Linked DNA regions of Homo sapiens. The protein of the gene in region 3 purifies or fractionates together with the protein of the main gene of each other region. This does not show direct contact. Each region holds a gene or a part of one and is shown on either strand. Other genes may lie near its edges.

Region 1 (3,522 bases), on a different chromosome or scaffold from region 3:
TAGTAATAATAAAACAATATAAATGATCCAGGTTCTCAAGGTGTAGAGAGAGAAGCTTGTTCTCTGGGGGCAGCTGCCTCAGCTTAAAAGACTTTCCTGACCATCCACTTCCCTATCTACCATTTTCTTTCCTCCCATATGCTCTACTTACCCATTCTTCCCCATAACAATCTCTATTTCTTACACTCAAAAATTTGTCTGTTGCAAAGGGCTTTGGCATAAAGTGTTCTACCGTGTCATTCTATTTTAATAATAATCTTACCAGCCAGGCACAGTGGCTCACACCTGTAATCCCAGCACTTTGGGAGGCCGAGGCAGGCGGATCACCTGAGGTCGGGAGTTCAAGACCAGCCTGACCAACATGGAGAAACCCCATCTCTACTAAAAATACAAAATTAGCCTGGCGTGGTGGCGCATGCCTGTAATCCCAGCTACTTGGAAGGCTGAGGCAGGAGAATCGCTTGAACCTAGGAGGCAGAGGTTGCAGTGAGCCGAGACCACGCCATTGCACTCCAGCCTGGGCAACAAAAGCGAAAACTCCATCTCAAAAATAATAATAATAATTTTACCATACTGCATACTTTACAGTCATATAAAGAACTATAATCCTCTACCCTTAATACAAATAAATGCTTAAAATGAAACACTAAACAAACAAAAAACCCACTTTAAAATCCATTTCACTAACCATGTGCTTCCACATCATATTCTTCTCCATCGTAGTCATCTGAATCCTCATCCTCAGGATCTGGATGCAAGGCCTGGCATTCGCACATTGCAGTGAACATTGCCTCCACTGAACAAGGAAATTAAACTGTAACCAATCTTTTTTTGTAATAAAAGTAACCATCAGTGCAAATAAATTTAATGGGTACACAAAACGCCACAGTATTTACAAAATCTGCCAAATTGTAAGATCAATCTTGAAAGCGGTTGAAGCAAAAGACAAGTCATAAAATAATAAGAGTTCATTATGAGAGATCATTGCAATCTCTTCATGGCTCGTGGGATTTTCCAAGAAAAAAGGGTCAGAGTCCTGGTAAGACTGCTGGCATCAGGGTGAAGGGTGAAGACTGCTCTCAGCTGATAGGGCTCTTTCCAGCCATCCTGAGATCTTCCACTTTAAAACTGCCATAACTCCTCTGCCATCCAGCAGGTGAGATTAAGTCAACAGCACCAATCAGTAAAACTAACCAGAGTCCACTCACAAAATATACCCAGATGACAGAGTGTCTACAATATTCTCACTACATTCACAACCTTTGATATTAATAGGTATTTGGTCCTTAATGATATTACCAATGCTAAAATAAAGAAAAAGCAATAGAATGGAGGTAATGGTGGTAAAGGTGAGAGGTGTGTGTGTGTGTGTATGTGTGTGTGTGTCAATTGGGAATGCTTGGTATGTAAAAGGGGAAGAATCAATACTGTAGAACACTCACACGCTGATTTATCACTAGGCACAAATCTAAATTCAGTAATAGGTTCAACATCATCATCACTGTCTTCCTCTTCTTCATCAGCAACAGGTTCTTTTGATTCTTCTAGAAAATAAAATACCCTTTTAATGTCATTATTTGACTTTAAAAAAATGAAGCATATTGAAAATCTGAATATTGCAATTCAATTTTAATTTCCAATTATGGTTGACAAATTTATTTCCAATTATGGTTGAAAAATTCTGATTATACAGTGAGCATCCTAGAAAAGCCTTGCCTCGATCTCCTGACCTCGAGATCCACGCACCTTGGCCTCCCAAAGTGCTCCCTCCGCGCCTCACCGGGAATGAATTTTTAAGGTTATTTTTAAGGTAATCTAATCTCATCAACAATGAGCTAAGGGTCAACTTTTTTTTCTGAGACTGGGACTTGTTTTGTTGCCCAGACTGGACACCCTTGCCCTCTCAGGCCCAAGCGATCCTCCCACCTCAGCCTACTAAGCAGCTGGGACTACAGGCACTTGCCACCACACCCTGCTAATTTTTGTTTTTTTGAGATGGGGTCTTACGATGTTGCCCAGGCTGGTCTGAAACTCCTGGGCTCAAGTGATCCTCCTGTCTTGGCCATTCAAAATGCTGGGATTGTGGCTGGGCACGGTGGCTCACGCCTGTAATCCCAGCACTTTGGGAGGCCGAGGTGGGCGGATCACGAGGTCAGGAGTTTGAGTCCAGCCTGGCCAATATGGTGAAACCCCGTCTCTACTAAAAATACAAAAATTAGCAAGGCGTGGTGGCAGGCGCCTATAATCCCAGCTACTCAGGAGGTTGAGGCAGGAGAATCATTTGAACCTGGGAGGTGGAGGTTGCAGTGAGCCAAGATCACAGCATCGCACTCCAGCCTAGGTGACAGGGTGAGACTCCATCACAAAAAAAAAAAATGCTGGGGTTACAGATGTGAGCCACTATGCCCGGTCCTGATGGTCATTTTTTTTTTTTTGAGACGGAGTCTTGCTCTGTCGCCCAGGCTGGACTGCAGTGGTGCCATCTCGGCTCACTGCAAGCTCTGCCTCTTGGGTTCACCCCATTCTCCTGCCTCAGCCTCCTGAGTAGCTGGGACTACAGGCGCCCGCCACCACACCTGGCTAATTTTTTTGTATTTTTTTTAGTAAAGACGGGGTTTCACCGTGTTAGCCAGAATGGTCTTGATCTCCTGACCTCGTGATCCGCCCGCCTCAGCCTCCCAAAGTGCTGGGATTACAGGTGTGAGCCACCGCGCCCAGCCCTGATGGTCATTTTTAAAGAGACTTACAGAGGTATGCCAAAGAGAAAAAAAAAAAACTTAGAGCTTAGAGAATCAGAATGCAAGGAACAAAGGCTGGGAAAATATGATTCAAGCACATGTAATTTATGAGAGGAGTTTAAGATAAAAAGAACTAAAGGGCCAAGCGAGGTGGCTAACGCCTGTAATCCCAGCCCTTTGGGAGGCTGAGGTGGGTGGATCATGAGGTCAGGAGATGGAGAGCATCCTGGCCAACACAGTGAAACCCCAACTCTACTAAAATACAAAAAAAAAAAAATTAGCGGGGCGTGGTGGCGGGAGCCTGTAGTCCCAGCTACTCGGGAGGCTGAGGCAGAAGAATCGCTTGAACCCAGGAGGCAGAGGTTGCAGTGAGTCAAGATCGCATCACTGCACTCCAGCCTGGCGACAGAGCAAGACTCCATCTCAAAAAAAAAGAAAAAAAAAAAAGGAACTGGAGAATTAGTGAAATAAATGTGACCCAGAAAGATACTAATTTCTAGTAAGATAGGAAATCCTGCATATCTTACTAAGAAAGGATTAATCATAATCACATCAATTACAACCAATCATATAGATTCTGTATGATTATAGAGCACATATTTAAAACACACACCCTAAAACCTACTGAACTGCTTTTTCCTAGTTTAGGACTCAGAGCATTTGCATTTTAAACAAGCTTCCCATGTATTTCTAATGTGTATCCATTAGTCTTGAGTTTGGGAACAAGAGACTAATATACTCCCTTAACTTTTTGGATGAAATTCAGGCTCAGAGAAATGCAAAT
Region 2 (3,522 bases), on a different chromosome or scaffold from region 3:
TAAGTATTTTAGGGCCTTCTTTGCCTATCATAGACTTATAACTTGAAGTGAAACAAGTTTTTAGAATTAAACTTGAAATTCAGGCAGTTTTATTAGTCATGTGGAGTACTAGCAAGTGTCTGAAATTTATTATGCAAATTATTATCTTTGAAGAATTTCTGCATCTAGAATTCTGTGGCTCAAATATTATAGCTGTAGTGATGAAAGTGACACTTACGAAGGAAACGCAGTTTAGTGCCTACTTTTAAAAACATTACATTGTTTTCATTACTAAACTGTATTCTATTTACAATAAAACATTTAGAAAGTGTAGAAGAGAAGGAAGAGGGGAGAAATACCCTGTTCAGCAACTCTGTTAATGTCTTTTCGTCTTACATATTGTTTACATTGTGGGTTTCTTGTATTTTAGATAAGCTAAATGTTACTGATTCCGTCATAAATAAAGTCACCGAAAAGTCTAGACAAAAGGAAGCAGATATGTAAGTAATATTTTAATAATATGCATGGGTGATAAGGACTAATCTAGATTAAGCAGCACCTTGATCATAATTCTTTTACAGAGGATGTTCATTTGTATACTTAAACCAATCATTATTTTGGTGTGTGTGTGTGTGTGTGTGTGTGTGTTTTCCTTAGCTTAAATTAGGATAACCTATGCCTTTGTGAATTAAAAATATTAATGAATCTTGGCTGGGTGTGGTGGCTCATGCCTGTAATCCCATCACTTCAGAAGGCCGAGCTGTGGGGATCACTTGAGGCCAGGAGTTTGAGACCAGCCTGGCCAACATGGTGAAACCATGTCTGTACAAAAAATACAAAAATTAGCCAGACATGGTGGTGCACGCCTGTAATCCCAGCTACTCAGGAGGCTGAGGTGTGAGAATCTCTTGAACCTGGGAGGTGGAGGTTGCAGTGAGCCAAGATCGTGCCACTGCACTCCAGCCTGGGCCACAGAGCGAGACTCCATCTCAAAAATAAATACATAAAATAAAAATTAATGAATTTTAAGAAATACATGGTAAAAGTGTAATCTCATGAAATTTACAAATGTGTTCTTATGAGGGGAACAGTGTTTGTAGATTTCAGTTTAAACTAAAATGTGCAAAAATGTTCCCTTAAAATTTATTAAGAATTATTCTTTCCCATGAAGTATTTTTAAAAATTTAAGGGAAGACTATGAACTAATGATATAACTGAGAACTGTTTCTGTTTACACTTCTGTTCTCAAAGCCAATTGTTTAAGATCTGAATAACTTCTCTTATATGCTAATAACTCTAAAGTATTATCACTATATTATAGAAAACGACACTAAGATCATACAACTAACTGTGAGAATTGAACGTAAAAGCCAGCTTTCTTCCAATTTATTGCTATGTCCAAGAGGTATCAGCTTTTTGAGATACACCATAGTTATTTGTTATTTCACTGGTATCTGTTTGAATCTTTGTGTTTAAACCTTTATTAGTTTAGGTTAGTGTGCTAGGTGGAGTCACTCAGTGTATAAGCAGAAGCAAATCAGAGTCTGCATTTGAATACTGTCTTGAAACGATTTTAAAAAACAAAACTGCCAGGTGCAGTGGCTCACGCCTGTAATCCCAGCACTTTGGGAGGCAGAGGCGGGCGGATCACAAGGTCAGGAGATCGAGACCATCTTGGCTAACAAGGTGAAATCCTGTCTCTACTAAAAATACAAAAAAATTAGCCGGGCTTGGCGGCGGGCGCCTGTAGTCCCAGCTACTCGGGAGGCTGAGGCAGGAGAATGGCGTGAACCCGGGAGGCAGAGCTTGCAGTGAGCCGAGATCGTGCCACTGCACTCCAGCCTGGGCGACAGAGCGAGACTCCATCTCAAAACAAACAAACAAAAACAAAAACAAAAAAACTTGTATCTTCTTAGAAAATGCCTCTAAACAGAAAGCCTTGTAAATGACTAACTCTATGTGGAGGCTGGGGCAGGAGGAATACTTGAGCCCAGGAGTCTATGCCTAGCCTGGGCAACATAGTAAGATGCTGTCTCTTTAAAAAAAAAAAAGAAGACAAGACTTTAATTGTGTGCTAACAGAATCATTAAAGATGTGAAGGACAGTACAAATATACTCAATGTTTTCTCTTTTTCAGCATAGTTCACTTTACCCTGGCGGCTCTTTGATGCTTCTGAAATAGGAATAGATTTTTCTTTTTACTGTATACATACTCCTTTTGCCAAAATACAGAATTGAATTTTGGTATTCAGGGGAAATGAAGAAAGTTTCACTGAGTAATGAAAAATCTACAATCATATCATAAAATCTGTTATTTAGAGAAACTACCTACTTAGGAATTTTCATGAAATTATCTACATTTAGAAGATTTTGGCTTCTCACTGAATTTTGAATGTGTCAACTATACGTTTTTGTTTTTGGTTAGGTATCGCATCAAAGATAAGGCAGACAGAGCAACTGTAGAACAGGTACAATTTAAATGTGTTGCAAACTCTTCTTTTTAATTAGCATTTCTTCTCTCTTTGAATTGTAGTTTGCTTTTATCCTTTTTGCTTAATGCTAATGTTACCTAAAATTACTCCTATATAAAATTATTCCTTTTTATAGTTTCGAGTTTAGAGACCTACATCTTGCTTTTATAGGACTATTGGATGAATTAGAGTCATGGTCCTTCAGTGGCCTTGCAGAGCCACCATGCGATGCTTTCCCTTCTTGGAGAGATTATCAGACCAGCAATCTTTTAGAAAAGGTCCGTAGGAATTTTGTGAGCTTTCCCAGAAGATAGGTAGGGTATCTGCCACAAAGCAGGAAGTGTGGGTGTAAAAGAGAGAGGGGCAGATAATGTCTTCAAATTTCCAGTTAGGAATCCTTTGTTTAGAAATTATGCTTGTTTTATTCTTTCTATTCAAGAATGGGGAAAAATTGGCCCCTAATTTTCCCACATTCCGAAGAATGTGATTGGATATTAGCCTTGGCCCAGATTTTTGATGTGAAGAAAGTGATAAAAAGAGTCAGAACATTTGCCTCTGCCACCTACCACTCCTTTCCACCACCCCCTCCCATATACACAAGCACATGTTCTGAATTCCACCATTAGACAGAAGCCGGGTCTGTGGTCTGTGTCTTCATTGTCCCCTAGTTTATTTTGTGATTTATTTCTGTAATTGAAAACAAAGTATGGTTCACCTCGGAAAAATGAGATAGCCTTAAGTTTCAAAGACCCTAAATAACTTTAGGGTTATTTTTGGCAGGAAATTCTTTTTCTCTTTCAAAATTAATTTTGAATGATAGAGTACATAGCTGGAGTCTTCAGCTGTCTATATAAAATATATGCTTGTGTGTAAATTTATCATTTCTCTTTCCCTGTTTTGTTCTTAAGCCATCTGGTTTGTTACTTCTTCCTATGCCCCTGACTTGTCTAACTGCCAACTTCGCAGAAGCACAGTTCTGTACCTAGAGGCCCATACTCAGCCAGCTGACTTCCCCTCTTTGCTTACCTGTGCAGTAGAGAAGAAATGGAAACTAGTGCCTTTTCATTCTTCT
Region 3 (3,167 bases):
ATATAAAGATCATTTTTCCTGATTCTCTTGTGACAAATCAGCAAGTTACCACATTCCCACATCTCTGGTGGAAGGTGCCCACCTCCAGCCTAAGAATATGTAGCGGCTCACAGCAGACATCATCACCTTGCAAAGTGCTTTCAAGCACAGCTTATTTCCAGATAATTCAAAGACCTTCTTGGAAACAGCAGTAAGGCTGCTAATTCTAAAACTAAAGCAGTTTTATTTTGTTTTTTAAACCAAAGATCACTCCTCTTCTCTGTTCCAGCTAAAAATTACTGGACCGTCAGAAGGCTGGGTTAAGTTTTCCTTCCTTCACCTTATCTGAAAGCCCATCTTCTCCTCCTTCTACCTCAATGGCATATTTCTGTCTGACCCACACATCTGTCCTTTTGTAGTCTTCTGCCATTTTCTAATTGCTATATCTATGTAAGTCCAGCATTTCCAATACCATTATAAGCTCCCTGATGGTCAGGCTTGGGCAATGCTTTCTTGGTAACCACTCCTCCTCTTCCTTTTCTACAAGGCTGGGTAGGGGACATTCAGGGAATGTCAGGTGCTAGACAGGGGACATCTAAAGGACTCAAATGTGATTGCAACAGAAAAATTACCACCACCACCACCAAACATTTATTGCACGGCTGCCCATGGTCTTCCCCTCCGTACCTCAACTTCTGTCATCACTCTTGGTGATATCAATGTCCATGCAGATAACCTGTGCCTTAGGCCACATACCTTGTCTCTCAGTCCTTTGACTTTTCCATATTACCATAACCACTCAGACTGGTTTAACTTAAAATTCCTGATCACAATCACATATCTCACCTTGACTTCCAACACCACCTGACAAACCTCCACATCTGTCCAGTAGGATGAATTTCTCTCTCCCCCGGGTACTGCCTCATACCTTTTCCCTTCTTAAGCCTCCCCACTTGCAACACACACGAACACACCCAAGTCTCCATACCTTCATGAGATGATCCCACTTCACCTTTCACAGAAAAAAAAAAAAAAAAAAAAAACCCAGACATCGTCAGGGAACACGTTCACCTTCCACCACTCTCAACAGCCCTGCCTGTGGCTGCCCCTGGCTTCTCCCGCATTGCCTGTGTTACGGTGGAGAAAGTGGTCTTCTTCCCCCAAGCCATTCCCTTGATACTTGGTGTCAGTGCCTTCTCCCACCTTGATCTTGGCTTTCCCTTCACCACCTCCATCATTCGCTTCCTCTCCATTGGATCCCATTAGCTTACATACATGCTCGGGTATCACCGTGACTCCATATCCTGCCCCAGTCTCTGCCCTCCATCGTGCCAAGCCAGCCAAAAGAGCCAACCACATATACTGCCTCCATGTCTGCGCTTCTTATTCCCTCTGACTCCGGCTCCTACCCCAACCCATGAGGGACTGTCTGGTCATGGCCATCTACAACCCCCATGCTGCCTGACCCAGTGGACGCTTTTCTGTCTTTCTCTCCCTGACCTCTCAGCAGCTTTTGACATACTTTATGAAATAATCATGTGGCGTCTTTGACTCCATATTCTTAGTTCTCCCCTACCTAAATAGGGAGCTCCTCCTCAGCTTTCTTTGCTAAATTATCCCTTCTACCAGACTTTAAAATGTTGGTGTTGTTCAATACTCAGTCCTGGGTCTTTCCTTCTCTCTTTCTTTCCCTACAGTCTCTCCTTAGATGGTCTCATCCATTTCTAATGACTACAAGTATCTCCTAGATTTGAAGAACTCTTTAGTTCAGACTCAAATATTCAATTCGTTACTTGAGATCTCCACTTTTTGAAGACCCCACAATTCCTCTGGCATGCACTCTCCCTTGTAGCCCTAAGCACATAAACCTAACGTGGATTGGCTACTGGCATGTCCCTGGTGGCCTTTGTCTATCAGACTTCAATCATTCAAAGCACAGAGAGATTACATCTGTCCACATGTATATATCTGGTTAGGGGCAGAGCTGAAGTTCAATCCCAAAGAAATCTCACTTCAGGGCCTATGACCTTAACCCCCATACTATGTTTCCCTTTTTAAATAAAGGCAATATGTAAGCTTCTAGTTAACCACTCATGCCCTGGGCTTGAATTCCAACTCTATCACTTACTTAATTTCCCATGGCCTCGGTTTCCTCACCTATACAATGGGAATATTTAGTAACCACCTCATTGGGTTGTTAAGAGGAGTAAATGAGATCATGTAAGCAAAGCACTGAGAACAGGGCCTGGCACAAACTGCAGGCAGTATAAGTGCCCCCCAATGTCAGCTATTATTACTGCTAAATAACATCTGCTTCTTTTGATTACATAGCAATTTAGGTTTGTGGTGGTGATAGATAAACCCAATATTTTTGTTGTCTGTTTGGGAAAGTTTCTTAAGACTATAATTTCCTATGACTTCTGGCTTACTTGAGCTTTTTTTTTTTTTTTTTTTTTTGAGACCGCGTTTTGCTCTTGTTGCCCAGTCTGGAGTGCAATGGCGCGATCTCAGCTCACTGCAACCTCCACCTCCCAGGTTCAAGCGATTCTCCTGCTGCAGCCTCCCAAGTAGCTGGGATTATAGGCATGCACCACCGCGCCAGGCTAATCTTTTTGTATTTTTAGTAGAGACAGGGTTCACCATGTTCGTCAGTCTGGTTTCCAGCTCCTGACCTCAGGTGATCCACCCGCCTCAGCCTCCCAAAGTGCTGGGATTACATGTGTGAGCCACCACACCCAGCTGAGCTTTCAATAGTTTAAATTACAGGGTCCCTCACAGTAACAGAAGGAGGGCAGGGACTCTGTTGTGCTCATTACTGTATCCTGAGCATGTAGAAAGAGGCTGAGTGTTTCCTTTGGTACCTCTCCCGCTAAATGAGGAGCTTTGCAAGAACCAAGTAATGTCTGTGTCTTCTCTAGACACTGCTTTCCTGGACATTACCCTGTTGATGTCTCAAAGAGACACTGGGCTGGGGCATGCGCATGTGTGGGTATGTGATGTTGCTAAGAGATACAGTTCTTTAAATGTGTGATAAGAATCACTGGGGGAATTTTACTTACATGTTTGAAACAACAAAAGAAAAACATATTCTCTGGGAACAAGCTTAACAATCAAGAGTGATCCATTATAAACAAGATCAGAATGACAATCGCCTGCATTAAACGTGACATTTTTGGTATTTGTACATC
Region 4 (3,522 bases), on a different chromosome or scaffold from region 3:
CCTGGCCAGTGTCTGATGCTCCAGCAGCGGCTTGGATGCTCCCAGGGACTGGGCGCTCCCTCCCCTTGGCAGGGAACTCCAAGGTTTTGAGGCTCACAGAGACGGTGGGAGGCAGGCGCCGGGTGGGAAGGGCGTGGCTCTGGCAACATAAAGATCTAAGCCTGAACCCCGACTGGCCATCGATTGGCTGGCTGGGGGGACTTGGGCGTGTCCCTGAACTTGCCTGGGCCTCCCTTTCCTCATCTGTAAAATGGGTATAAGGGTCCCTACTCCCAGGGCTTTGGGGAGAGGGCAGCACTCAGCACTCCTGGTCCCGAGTGCCCACTGGGTAAACGGTGGTCGTCATTGCTGTCATCTCCCCCCAACCACAATACTCCCCTACTGCCTTGGGGAGTGGCAGCTTATCACCTGGTTCCAGACCTGGCAGCTGAGCTCCCAGCCTTTGGCGCGGCTCCCGGCCTGTCTGTGCCTCCCTCCCCAGCGTCCCCCACCCCCAGGCACACCTACATTTACAACCTGTACAGAGCTGCCCTCACACACCACCACACGCGTGCGCACAGGAGTGCCCGGCTCACCCACTCCTGACACACGCCATGACCCCGTCACTCACGCTCGGAGCGTGCCCACGTGAATCGGGACTTGCCCACGTGCCCCGCAGCACCCGCCCTGCCTGCAACACCCACACCAGGCACCCGGGCCCGCTCACGCTCACCTGCACACCTCCATGGCGGCTCCCTGGCACCTCCACCAAGCAGGGGCCCCTCACCGCGGCCCAGGGCTTCAGTGTGCAGACTCCAGGCTGAGAGGGGACGGGGATCAGACCCCAATGGCACCACTCTCCAGCCGTGGGACCATGAGCCAGCTCTCATCCACTCTGAGCCTCCATTTCCTCATCTGTAAAAAGGGGACCCCCACAGGGCTCCTGGGTGGAATTGGTGAGGAACACACGTGAACACCAAGGACAGGCCTGGGTCACACGGAACATGCCTAATACCAGATTCTCACCGCAGTGACAGCCCCTGACCGTCCCGTGCTGCAGCTCGCAGATCCTCCACCACCACCAGGAGCAAAAGGAGGGCCGAGATGAGCCGCCAAGTTCAACGTCTGTTATTCCTAACCCCGCACACGGCTCTGTGTAGTAGAAGTCCCTTATCCCCAACCCCCAGATAAGAAAACTAAGGTATCGAGAGGCTAAGAACCATGCCTGAGGCTGAGAAGATCCAAGGGCCTGGGTCTTGAACACCACAGCCCAAGCACACTCCGTCCCTGGGGCCCTGACGTACCTTCCCCACTGGGTCTCACTATCTGGGAATTTGAACATGGTACAGAAAGGGAAACTGAGTCCCAGAGGGAACTAGTGACTCCAAAGCCACTGTCCAGGCCATGATGGTCCTGGGACTTAATCCCAGGCAGGCTGCTGTCCATCCTCTGAGCCCCTGGGCGCACAGGAGCCTAAAAGCCAGCCTGCCACAACCCTTCTCCCTCCCCAACTCACCAAGCCAGGAGCCAGACACAGAACAATCCGGCCACCAACCCAGCCGGGCCACCACAGAGGCCCTCCATGTTTGCCACTCGCTCCCAATTCAGCCAAGAGCCTGTGACAGCTCACTCTGTGATTGCCCAGGGGAGTGGCCAAGAACGGCTGTCCCTGATACAGCCGGTCCAGCAGCCTCCTTCCTGGGAGAGCATTTACTGAGCACCTACTACGTGCAGATCCCTGTGCAAACATCCCTGTCTCATGCGCAAGGGACCTCAGAGCTCAGAGACGTAAGGAGCTGGCCAGGATTGCCCAGCCAGGAAACAGCAGAACTGACCTTCAAGTCCTCAGCACCTGCCGTTCTGCCCTTGGTCAGAATATGACCCCAATCTCAAGTTACCTAGAAACGCCGCAACGTAATCTCTGACACTCTCTGCCCTGCAAAATAGATCACACACAGAATGTGAAAATTGATTCATCTTGTTATGACCATAATGATGATGTGCTTTTTAATTTATATTGGCTTTTTTTCTTACCAGAGTGCTAGAGATATCTGGGGCAAGATGAACCCCAGCAGAAGACCTCAGTGAAGAAGTCAAGACATCCCTAGGCCAGGCGTGGTGGCTCACGCCTGTAATCCCAGCACTTTGGGAGGCCAAGGTGGGTGCACCACTTGAGGCTAGGAGTTTGAGACCAACCTGGCCAAAATGGCAAGACCCCATCTCCACTAAAAATACAAAAATTAGCCAGGTGTGGTGGTGCACATTCTAATACGAGCTACTCAGGAGGCTGAGGCAGGAGAACAGCTTGAACCCGGGAGGTGGCGATTATAGTGAGCCGAGATCGCGCCACTGCACTCTAGCCTGGGTGACGGAAGTGAGATTCCATCTCGATAGATAGATAGATAGATAGATAGATAGATAGATAGATAGATAGATAGATAGATAAAAAGAAGGCAAGACATCCCTATCTGAACCCCAACAGCCAACTCACCTTGGCACAGTGGGAGGTGCCCTGACAGGAACAAAGCAGTTCCTGCCACATATTTGCTGTGTGACCTTGGGGAAGATGCTTCACCTTTCTGGCGCTTAATTTGCCTACTTGTAAAATGAGGGCATTGAACTACTTGGCCCCAAGAGTCTCCTCCAGCTGAAAGATACTAGGATTCTATTTCATAGTATTCAAAGAAATAAATGTTGACACAGTGAGCCACCTCTTTTCCTCCCCATAAAATTGGCAAGAAGTAAGGAAAACAGTAATACCCAGTGCTGGCAAGAATGCAGAGAAATAGGCACTCTCTCATCTACTTTTGCTGAAAATGTAAACTGGAACAGCCTTTCTGGAGAGCAATTCAACAATTTTTAATCAAAAGCCTTTCAAAACATCCCCAGCCTTTTAACTCCATAACCCCGTTCTGGGTTCTTATCTTCAAGAAAAGATAAGTGCAAAGATTTAGTGCAAAGACATTCATGCAAAGATGTGGTACAAAGATGTTCATCTCAGTATTTTCAATATGGGAGGAGGAAGCTAACTGTCCAATGACAGGAGATTAAATAAAATATGTTCTGTCCATATGATGCACCATGAAAAAAAATCATGCTCTAAAAGCATAGTTCATGATACGGGCAAACATTCAGAATGGTCAGGTTTTTTTAAGTCAGAAAATAAAAAGTAGATAATCCCAAATTTACAAGGTAATGAAAACTATGAGTCCAGGGACAGCGGCTCATGCCTGTAATCCCAGCACTTTGGGAGGCCAAGGTGAGTGAATCACCTGAGGTCAGGAGTTCGAGACCAGCCTGACCAATATGGTGAAACCCCGTCTCTACTAAAAATACAAAAATTAGCTGGGAGTGGTGGCGGATGCCTGTAATCCCCTACTCGGGAGGCTGAGACAGGAGATTTGCTTGAACCCGGGAGGTGGAGATTGCAGTAAGCCAAGATCGTGCCACCGTACTCCAGCCTGGGTGACAGAGTAAGACTCTGTTTCAAAAAAAAAAAGAGGAGGGAAGGGGAGGGAAGGGGAGGGAAGGGGAGGGGAGGGC
Region 5 (2,180 bases), on a different chromosome or scaffold from region 3:
GCCTCTTAGGTATTAGGCTATGAATCAGCGCCACGTGCAAAGGCTTGGGAGCCAAGCCATGTGGTCTTGCACCCCAGGCAAGAAAAGTCAGCTGGAGGGTTTACAGCACTTTCTACTGTTTCCCAGCCCTCCCTCCCCTCCCTCACCATGACTAAGAGACCACTCGGTCCTAGCCTCCAGACACCCCACAATACTCCTCTGAGCCTGAGGCCAGGCAGCATGCTCTGCTTCTACCAATAAAGCACTGCTAAGGGCAGGGGCTGCTGTTTCTGTGTTGGGCTAGGGAAGACGTGGCCTCAGTTCCATGCTTTGCTCCAGATGTTTAAGAGAAGTGCTGTTAACACGCAAGCTGGCACAACCATCTAAGCCTCTCCTGGGGGCTGAATTAGGAGAGCCCAAAGAAACACTGTGGAGTAGGGAAAGGCAGAAAAGGGGAAGGGCAGACATGGTAGGGGCCCCGACATTAAGAACACCCTAGCCATACCAGCAACCTGAGCAGACAAACAGCCAACAGAACATCAGTCAAAATAAAAGGGGTTTATGTAACAAAAAACAAAAAAACAAACAAACAAAAAAACACAGTAAAAGATACCACCCAGCTAGCAGAAAGGACTCAGCACTGCCTTCAGCCTTCACTTACTCAGAAATAACTCATATCTCAACCTCAGCAAGCCCCAAGCAGTAGAATGAGGCTTCCCTGGAAAGAGGCTGAGACTCACAGGCTGGGGATTTAAGACCCTCTCACCGTCCACCTTCCTTCCTTCTTTGGTCTTGGAAGATGAAAGGCTCCATTTTTAAAGGGTGGAGAACAGCAGATCCCCTGCTACTGTGAGACAAGCCAGAAAAGTGAGTCAAGGCCAGACTCACTATGGGGTCACCCCAAACAGCTTCAGATCAAAAAGCCTGCCTTGCTGTGATGCCCATTGACAGTGGCTGCAAATATAAAGGGGGGGCCACAGGGTCTCTGGCTTTATTTCCACAGGGTAGGGAGAAGACCCTGCAGAAGGCTAGGCAGAGGGGCCAGCCGGGAATTTCCCAGCTTTTCTGGTTCTCAGCAGACCAACGTGGTCTCTAATCAGAAAGACGAAGAGGCAGGAGAGCACTGGCCTCAGATATCCCCCATCTTGTCCTCTTGCACTGTGGGCCAGGGCTGCTGTGAGCTAGGAGACCAGGGTTCCAGAGGGGCTCACTAGGTCCTGCGGGAGGCTTTCCCGGGCCTCCTGCATGCGGCGCCGGGCTCGACGGAAGGCCTCTGTAAGGAAAGGAGATATGCTATTTGGCTGCCATATGGTATTTCTCTCTGCACTGCAGAGAGAAACAGGCCCATGCTGACCTGGGGTGGCCAGCTGGGGGAGGGGACATACCTAGCACATTGTGAATGGAACTCTGCTGGCTGAACCCTTCCAGACGGTCCAACACACTCCGCATCCTTTTCTGAAGGGAGCTCGATTCCATGAAGGCCCTGCAGGGAGGCCAGCCACATGGTTACGGCTGTCTCCACCCCTCAGGGCTAAGGTGCCCTGAGGCAGAGGGCCAAGTCACTCACCTGGACTGCTGCAGACAGTGCAAGCGGAAGGTGACAGTGCCTGTGGTCTCTGTGCGGAGTCCAAAGCGGCTCAGGCGTTCCCCCTGTGGCATGCCATTGGGACAGCCTCAGGTTTCTGCTCTCTCTAGACACCCCCGCACCATGCTGGCCTCACCCCCATTCTTATTCCCATTCTTGGGAAGCGCAGTTCTGTTGGGGAAACCTTATTCCATCACCCAGACTCTATTACCTCAAGGCTAATACTGGGCTATTGGGCTCCCCCAACTAAACCAGGGAACATTCCAACCTCATTTGAGAAGCGGCGGTCTTATATGCTTACTGTGAATCCTCCCCACATCTGATTACTGAGGCCTTCAGTGATGGGGGAAAGAGCCAGTTATTCTGATGGGAACCAGGGGAAATCTCTAATTATACTATTTTCCAGAGACCTCCTACGATAGCAGTGTAGATATTGGAACCTGATTCAAAATGTGGTCATGACTTCCAGCTTAAGCCACAGGAAGGAAGGGGTTAATACTGAAGCAATGCACAACTAAGGGGTCTTGACCCAGATCCCACCTCCTACAGAAGGACAGGACCATAAGTTCTCAGCGTGAAGTCACTCCAAAGACAAAAGTCACCTTGAAGGATCCTG

What was found.
Region 1: the proteins of C1orf115 (region 3) and CLNS1A purify together in Homo sapiens (affinity purification with mass spectrometry; one large-scale study listed by BioGRID and IntAct). This does not show direct contact.
Region 2: the proteins of C1orf115 (region 3) and RIOK1 purify together in Homo sapiens (affinity purification with mass spectrometry; one large-scale study listed by BioGRID and IntAct). This does not show direct contact.
Region 4: the proteins of C1orf115 (region 3) and NCS1 purify together in Homo sapiens (affinity purification with mass spectrometry; one large-scale study listed by BioGRID and IntAct). This does not show direct contact.
Region 5: the proteins of C1orf115 (region 3) and MKS1 purify together in Homo sapiens (affinity purification with mass spectrometry; one large-scale study listed by BioGRID and IntAct). This does not show direct contact.

What each region holds. Positions count from the first base shown.
Region 1 is NC_000011.10:77,624,275-77,627,796, forward strand, and holds part of CLNS1A (methylosome subunit pICln), read right to left. Parts: intron 1,545-3,522; coding exon 1,443-1,544; intron 797-1,442; coding exon 689-796; intron 1-688. UniProt on the Homo sapiens protein: Involved in both the assembly of spliceosomal snRNPs and the methylation of Sm proteins.
Region 2 is NC_000006.12:7,396,294-7,399,815, forward strand, and holds part of RIOK1 (serine/threonine-protein kinase RIO1), read left to right. Parts: intron 1-409; coding exon 410-479; intron 480-2,404; coding exon 2,405-2,447; intron 2,448-3,522. UniProt on the Homo sapiens protein: Involved in the final steps of cytoplasmic maturation of the 40S ribosomal subunit. Involved in processing of 18S-E pre-rRNA to the mature 18S rRNA. Required for the recycling of NOB1 and PNO1 from the late 40S precursor.
Region 3 is NC_000001.11:220,693,350-220,696,516, reverse strand, and holds part of C1orf115 (required for drug-induced death protein 1), read right to left. Parts: intron 1-3,167. UniProt on the Homo sapiens protein: Regulates drug efflux through modulation of ABCB1 localization and activity.
Region 4 is NC_000009.12:130,178,898-130,182,419, reverse strand, and holds part of NCS1 (neuronal calcium sensor 1), read right to left. Parts: intron 1-3,522. UniProt on the Homo sapiens protein: Neuronal calcium sensor, regulator of G protein-coupled receptor phosphorylation in a calcium dependent manner. Directly regulates GRK1 (RHOK), but not GRK2 to GRK5. Can substitute for calmodulin. Stimulates PI4KB kinase activity.
Region 5 is NC_000017.11:58,204,919-58,207,098, forward strand, and holds the end of MKS1 (tectonic-like complex member MKS1), read right to left. Parts: coding exon 2,167-2,180; intron 1,630-2,166; coding exon 1,547-1,629; intron 1,463-1,546; coding exon 1,365-1,462; intron 1,253-1,364; coding exon 1,161-1,252; coding exon of another isoform or gene 1,072-1,160; 3' UTR 523-1,071; downstream 1-522. UniProt on the Homo sapiens protein: Component of the tectonic-like complex, a complex localized at the transition zone of primary cilia and acting as a barrier that prevents diffusion of transmembrane proteins between the cilia and plasma membranes.